2 linked regions of the Homo sapiens genome follow. The protein of the gene in region 1 purifies or fractionates together with the protein of each later gene. This does not show direct contact. Each region holds a gene or a part of one and is shown on either strand. Other genes may lie near its edges.

What was found.
Region 2: the proteins of UGT2B28 (region 1) and POTEF purify together in Homo sapiens (affinity purification with mass spectrometry; one large-scale study listed by BioGRID and IntAct). This does not show direct contact.

What each region holds. Positions count from the first base shown.
Region 1 is NC_000004.12:69,279,034-69,283,470, forward strand, and holds the start of UGT2B28 (UDP-glucuronosyltransferase 2B28 isoform 1 precursor), read left to right. Parts: upstream 1-1,441; 5' UTR 1,442-1,467; coding exon 1,468-2,188; intron 2,189-3,480; coding exon 3,481-3,629; intron 3,630-4,437.
Region 2 is NC_000002.12:130,084,196-130,088,027, forward strand, and holds part of POTEF (POTE ankyrin domain family member F), read right to left. Parts: intron 2,193-3,832; coding exon 2,148-2,192; intron 1,801-2,147; coding exon 1,619-1,800; intron 1-1,618.

The sequences.
Region 1 (4,437 bases):
CAAATGTAAGTTCTCAGTAGTGAGCTGCTATCTGAACACCTTAATCTGTTAAACATTTGTTATACATTTGGTCTACAATCATCAATTTACAACTGGCAGTATGTACCAAGAACTCTGTGGAGGACTTACATTACCTCCTTCTGATGTAACTGTTGTCATATCAGAACTTAGTACCAATATACATTTGTAGAAAGGTGAAAAATCTGTTGCATTTTCTTCATTTTGACTTTGCATTTGAGATTTTTAACAGAAAGAAGTGGGATCAGTTGTACAGTGAAGTATTAGGTAAGTTAGTACTTAATTTATTCACTTTTCCCTCCAATATGTGGAAGGAAACCTTCCTTTTTGGGGTCTGTTAGAGTGTGTTTATAAATTGAAGTAAAAAATAACCTTTTTGGTTATGTGAAAGACAAGGGTGGGCAAGGTTGTGGAGACATTGAAACCCTCATACATTGTTGGTGAGAATAGAAAATTATTCACCCACTCTGAAAAAGTCTAGCAATTCCTCAAAAGATTACACTTACATTTACCACATAATTCAGTAATTGCCTTTCTAGGCATATCCCCAAGAAAAATAAAAACATGTCCACAGAAATCATGCACATCAATGTTAAACAATGCTATTCATAATGACCAAAAGTGGAAGTAAATCAGTATCCATCAACTATTAAATGAATAAATAAATTGTGTTTATAAATAGCATCTGATAACTATTTGGCAATAAAAATGAAGTCCTTATTTACACTATTCTATGGATGGTCCTTTAAAAACATTAAACTAAGTAAAGGAAGCCAGCCACAAAAGACCACATATTATATCGTTCCATTTACTTTTAGAAAGAGCCTGAATAGGTGTATTTCTAGAGGCAGAAATTAGATTACTGGTTGCCCAGTGCAGGGCGGGTGCAGAAATTTGGTGGGGAGATGAGAGCTAATACACAGGAGTTTTTTGTTTTTTTAGATAAAACTGATTGTTATGTTGGATGCACAAGTCTGTGAATTTACAAGGAAATACTTAATTTTAAATACTAATTGATGAATCATATGGTATTTGAATTATACTTCAACAAAGTTTTACAAGATATTCCTTGAACCACGATATTCAAAAACGCTATTTGCATTGTACGATCACTTCATCTCTTACTCTGTGTCAAGGGCCCTGCAGGACTCTCTCACTTGCCACTATTCTTGACACTATTATAAAATAGGTTACATAAAACAGGGTACTTGCAAGGTCATTAATCTTAGGTGGATGACAGCGAATATAAACATAAAAGAAACATCAAACATCCTTGAGTAAATATGAAGTAATCAAACTTTGTCTCCTTGTCATCCATGTACTCAGGATGCTCCTATAATATATTTACTTTGGATTGAAGGAGTTATGTTTTAACTTGATTGATTTATCTCTGTATATAAGTATGAGAAAGAAACAGTGACTTGAAAAGAATGATTGCATTGCACCAGGATGGCTCTGAAGTGGACTTCAGTTCTTCTGCTGATACATCTCGGTTGTTACTTTAGCTCTGGGAGTTGTGGAAAGGTGCTGGTGTGGACCGGTGAATACAGCCATTGGATGAATATGAAGACAATCCTGAAAGAGCTTGTTCAGAGAGGTCATGAGGTGACTGTACTGGCATCTTCAGCTTCCATTCTTTTTGATCCCAATGACGCATTCACTCTTAAACTCGAAGTTTATCCTACATCTTTAACTAAAACTGAATTTGAGAATATCATCATGCAACAGGTTAAGAGATGGTCAGACATTCAAAAAGATAGCTTTTGGTTATATTTTTCACAAGAACAAGAAATCCTGTGGGAATTTCATGACATATTTAGAAACTTCTGTAAAGATGTAGTTTCAAATAAGAAAGTTATGAAAAAACTACAAGAGTCAAGATTTGACATCATTTTTGCAGATGCTTTTTTTCCTTGTGGTGAGCTGCTGGCTGCGCTACTTAACATACCGTTTGTGTACAGTCTCTGCTTCACTCCTGGCTACACAATTGAAAGGCACAGTGGAGGACTGATTTTCCCTCCTTCCTACATACCTGTTGTTATGTCAAAATTAAGTGATCAAATGACTTTCATGGAGAGGGTAAAAAACATGATCTATGTGCTTTATTTTGACTTTTGGTTCCAAATGTGTGATATGAAGAAGTGGGATCAGTTTTACAGTGAAGTTTTAGGTAAGAATTTGTTTAATCGGGAACTTGAAGATCTAACTTATTTGTGTCTTTGAAGCAGAGCTTATATAAAGCCATAAAGTCAGGGAAGTGGAGTTTTTGGTAAGTGAATTTATGAAATGAAAATACAAGATGATCTATCAATCTCACAAACATTATAGAAAAGCTTAAATTATAAGGTCTGTTAAAACCCTGTGGCCATCACTCATACAGAACACCCCAGGAAATCATAAACCTATATATTAGTACACCTAAGACTTTAAGCAATTACACATCTGTTTTACTATATAATGTTTTAGATCTTAAAAACAGTGAAATCCATCAAGTAACATCTTACTGAATGCATAGATTTAGAATGAGTAATTACACATTTTTCTACAACTATCTATATAACTGCAGAAAGTTTTCCTTGTAAACCTCAGTTTTCTTTTTTAGGTATTAAAAGATATTCCCATGTTTCCAGAAGGTTTCCTTCACAGTAGAGAGAGATAATGTCCACATCTCAGATGCAAAAGTTAATCAGGGTAATTTGAAGTTTCTAATGTTTCTATACTCCTTCACTAAAGAATTGGAATTCATTCATTTAAAGTCCAATTATCTTGTTGAAGTGTGAAGGTTGTTATATCTATATAGTTTATTTGAAACTATGTCTCTTTATTTAAAAATATGAGACAGATTAAGGTTGAGTACAGATCTCTATTTCAATAATTTCTCAAAAATTTCTAGCTATAATTTACAAATATATTTACTTAAATGATAATATTATTAAGATCTTAGCTCAAATCCAAATGAGTAGTTGGTACAAGGATTTCTGCCATACTCTCAAAATAGTCCGAGTTCACTTGAAGAACCAAAGATAAAAGGATTAGCTTAAGGAGTTGTGTAAACTGGACTGTTAGAAAATTGGTTTTATGGGTACAGTAGAATTAATTGATTATGGAGCTCAAAGAGTTGTTTAAATATCTATATGCAACTATTGAAGCTTTAAAGAGAAAATAAATTGATGTTTAATTTTCTATGACTTATTTTAATAATTGTGAGTACACTGACTTGACATTAGAGATGTCGCTTAACTTCATAATTCTCCCACCACTTTGCCTTTCTTATAAATAAACATGGACAAAATATATAATACATAAAAATATATTATTCATATACATGAATATATGTATATATTTTTCAAAGCACACAAACTTTACCTACATCTTTGCCTACATAATTCTAACCCCTTTCAGAAAGTTATGTAAAGTAATTATCTTACATCATCCACTTTTTCTTTTCTTTATTCCTGTCAGGAAGACCCACTACCTTATTTGAGACAATGGGGAAAGCTGACATATGGCTTATGCGAAACTCCTGGAGTTTTCAATTTCCTCATCCATTCTTACCAAACATTGATTTTGTTGGAGGACTCCACTGCAAACCTGCCAAACCCCTACCTAAGGTAAACATACTTTCGTTGGTTTTATTTTGTTGGCTTCGAAGTTTCAGTAGAAATGAGTCTATAGCCTTCATTCAAAATGTTTGACTTACACTGAAAGAAAGATGGGAAGTAGGTGGTGTAAAGCAGATACCAAATAGAAACTCATGTATATGTTAATACCATCACATGTATGTGAGTTTTATGCATATTACAAATAGAGAGGAATAGTAAGGAGACTTTGAAAATAGGGTTGATTAAAGTCTTGATTATGCAACACCTAAGGAGGTATTTGTCATTCATTCAAAGAATATTTATAAAGGGATTAGCACAAAACACAAGTAAGTGCAGAAATTTCAGAGAAAAAAAATAGACAGTTTCCGTCTGCACATACCTTACATTCTACTTTGAAATATAGAAAAGTAACTAATGAAAATGTTTTAAAAAACTATTATCTCAAGGAAAAACCCAATATCAAGAAAGCATCAGTGGAGATAATAGAAAGTATCCTGGAGTCATGGATTAGTAAGATGAGAGCTGAACAATATGCAGAAATAGGTAAAAGAATGGCGGGGAGAGGCAGACAAAAAGGGAAAGCAGATAAAGTGGTCAGGACAGTTCTCAAGTCCTCAGGTTTTGTTTTTAGGGAATGATTAAGAATCTAGATCATACTAAGAGGTAAATTAGAGCCAGATACATATTAGGAGTGGAAATATTTATTAAGAACATTGAAAAACTACTAAAAAGAGTTAAGAAATAAATATATATGAAACGATTCTCTTTTTTAAGAAGAGCCTCCAAGATATTCAATGGATTAAATTACAGAAGGGCC
Region 2 (3,832 bases), on another chromosome or scaffold:
TGAGGTAAATACTGAAATATATCCTTTTCTCAAAGGGAGGATAATGTCACACATGCAGGGCACTTTTACAAATAAAAGTCACTGCATTAGCAGCACCTTCCTTTTAGCACAAGGGTCAGCAAATAAGCACCTGTGGGCCAAATCCAGCCCACTGCCCGTTTTTGTAAGTCAAGTATCTTGGAACACAGCCATGCTTATTCACTTTACAGTCCATAGTGTCAGTTAGCTGGGTGTGATGTTGCACACCCGTGGTCTCAGCTAGTAGAGACTGAGGTCAGAGGATCACTAGAGCCCAGAAAGTCGAGGCTGCAGTCAGCCATGATCACACAACTGCACTCCAGCCTGGGAAACAGAGTGAGACCCTGTCTCAAGAAAATCAATATATGTAGTCCACAAAGCCTAAAATATTTACTAACTAGCTCTTTGCAGAAAAAGCTGGCCAACTCCTGGTTTAGTAGATCAAAGATTCTTTGATGTATTTTAATAAAAGTTTTACCAAATATACTGAAATGTTTATATTAAATATAGATCCCCATGTACAATCGCTTGGCAATATTCAGATTGAGGGTCCAATATTTCAGCACTCAGGCACTGACAACAAAAATTTAGTAACTAGCAATCTTGTTGCTAACAAGGTACAGTGTCAATGTAGCATGTAGCTTCCATTTGCAACACAGCAGATATTACAAGAAATTTAACAAGAACTCTTAAGATGTGTCATCAAACTAAACGCTTTAAATACATTTTAATTGTGAAATAATCAGTATACCCTACATCTAACCTCATTTTTTAAAAATGGTTGCATAATACATTATTTTGGGGATATGGAAATTGAGCTATTTCCTATTGATAAGGAATTAGACTAGCTCCAAATTTTTTACATAATACTATAATAAATGTCCTTATACATAAGTATACATATAACATATCTATACAAATATCCTTTACATGTATTATATATGCTTACTGTTATATATGTGTGTGTGAATATGCTACTCAATTAATGTTCAAAATGTATTTACCAACAGTATATGAAATGTCTTTTTCAATGAAACCATTTCCCCTGCAGCAACACGGATGGAGCTGGAGGCCATTATCCTAAGAAAACTCATGCAGGAACAGAAAATCAAATGCCACATATTCTTACTCATTAGTGGGAACTAAACATGAGAACTCATGGACACAAAGAGGAGAATAACATACACTGGGGCCTACTTGAGGGAGGAGCATGGCAGGAGGGAGACGACCAAAAAACTACCTTTCGAGTATTTTGTTTACTATGTGGCTGGTGAAATAATCTGTACCCCAAGCCTCCATGATACAGTTTACCTATATAATAAACCTGCACACGTACCCCGAAGCTAAAATAAAAGTTCACTGAAAAGAGAAGAAAATGTCTTTTCCCTCACATTTGCCAATACTGGTTATTTTTCAAATAAATTAATGACTGGAAAAAAAACGGTAACTGATTGTTTGCTGATTTTCATTTTTCTGATTAACAGGCAAGGCTCAATATCCTAATAAAAGTATAAAATTTGTTCATCATGAATATTAGCTCAAATTAGGATTAGTTTGGCAGCACAAAGTTACCTCCTGTTCAATGTTGCCATAGGCTTACCTGTGATACTCTTCATTCTCAGTGTCAGGAAATTGCTGGCTTTCAGGTGTTCTGCTCTTCCTTGGAGGAATTAATCCATCATCACCATTGCCAGCAGTGGCACCATTAGTCAGGTTTTCTGGGAATCCGACATGAGTACTTCTGTGCTTCTTCATTTCTTCGATAGCCATAAAATTTTCTAGCTGGAAAATACAGAGAATAAGAAATTATCTACTTTAGGCACATTATCTATTGATAATCAGACTAAAACCAAGAAAGATAAAATAATTGGTCTAAAGCTCCTAAAGTGGCATTACCTAGCATTTTATGGCACCATTCGGGATTATTCCATAATAATGAAAGAATAGCTCTAGGGTTTGCACCTCTTCAAAATTCAATGTACAGAATTCTGAGTTAACTATTTAATTTTTCACTGATGATTTATGCTACTTACATGATAGGATCATGTATGCCTACATTTACTACACTTTGTTAAACAACATAATGTAAAAATCTAATTCAACACAAACGTTTGAATATAAAGGTATACCTCTCTATCACCATCCTTATTTATTTCTGGTTCTTGAGATCTTTTCTGCAGATGTAAAAACAGAAGGTTAATTTGCTTGTTGTATTTCTGTGACATTTCCTCTTTTGGAGTGCATGTTTTTAAAATAATTTTATTCTGAAGTAATCAAGTATGGACAATAAAAATTAGAAAGTAATTAAAATTAAACTGTTAAAATAAATAATAATTAAAATTAAGAATTAACTTTTTAATCTATGTTTAGCTACTGCCACATCACTGGCTTCTAACATGTGAAAAATAATTCACCTTAGACAAAGGGAGAAGAAAAACATGAACCAGCAAACTTAACTTTCTCACTATTTGTTTGGACTAAATTTAATTTGTTATGTGTTAAATCTACCAAAAATGAATCAGCAGATGATTTGTAGTGTTCCAAAATCTTCCTCACTTGAAAAGAGTTTACCTCATGAAACCCTAACTAGTGAGCACCTACAGTGCACTGAAGTGCTTTTTTAAAAGATTCCTAACTGGATTGTAGGCACCCTTTAAACTATTAGGAGCCGAAATCAACACCAAACAGAAAGAAATGCAAATTCTCACATTTTAATTGAAATTATATACTGTCATATGATAGTGTTATGTATCCAGATTATCTGCGTAAGTCCAGTTCTAATATATTCTAATGTGTACTAATGACAGCAGATAAAATTTTTTAATCTCTACTGATTTTCTGCAACTGAAATAAATTAGAATGTTATTGTGTTTGTGCACTAACACCAAAGGTCCCATTCTGCAAGATATGGTTCTTGTAATAGGCAGTTGGGTTGCTTTTATGACCTGGTTCCCTCCCTGAACAGAAACACTGAGGTCAACGAGAGACCACAAGGCAGGATATGTCCTTAACCTTGGTATCAGTGACTGACAATATAAAACTGTGGATTTTCAATCACAGGCCATGATTACTCTTTAACCATGAATCCAGCTCAGGGAATCAGTGTTACATTGTTCATAATTCCTATTGCTTAATAATATGATTCAATCATTGATGTTACTTTCTTTATCATGTTAGGGTGTTGTAAAAATAAAAGAACAAACAAAGTTCTGAAATTTGTTTTTGCCTCTATTCCAAAAGGAGAGATTAGCTATAAGCTAATCAAGAAGGCAGATAAGAATATTTTAAAATAAGAGTATTTTAAATTTTATAGTGGGTTATGTTGAAGTTAAATATCAAATATTAAATTAGAATCTATTGATTCTTCTGTTAATAAGGTTGCTGATTTTATTACAATAAATTTTAAGAATCTATTAAAATTTTTTTTTTTTTTTTTTTCACATGGAGTCTCGCTCTGTCACCCAGGCTGGAGTGTAGTGGTGGATGTCGGCTCACTGCAAGCTCCCTCTCCTGGGTTCATGCCATTCTCCTGCCTCAGCCTCCCGAGTAGCTGGGACTACAGGCACCCACCACCACGCCCAGCTAAGTTTTTGTATTTTTACTAGAGACGGGGTTTCACCATGTTAGCCAGGATGGTCTCGATCTCCAGACCTCGTGATCCACCTGCCTCAGCCTCTCAAAGTGCTGGGATTACAGGCGTGAGCCACCTTGCCTGGCCAAAAGATTCTTAAAAAAACAATCTACTGATTCTCAAAGCCTAGTCTGAAAGGTAATTTCATTTGGACTATCTAATATTATTAAGGCAAAAAAAACA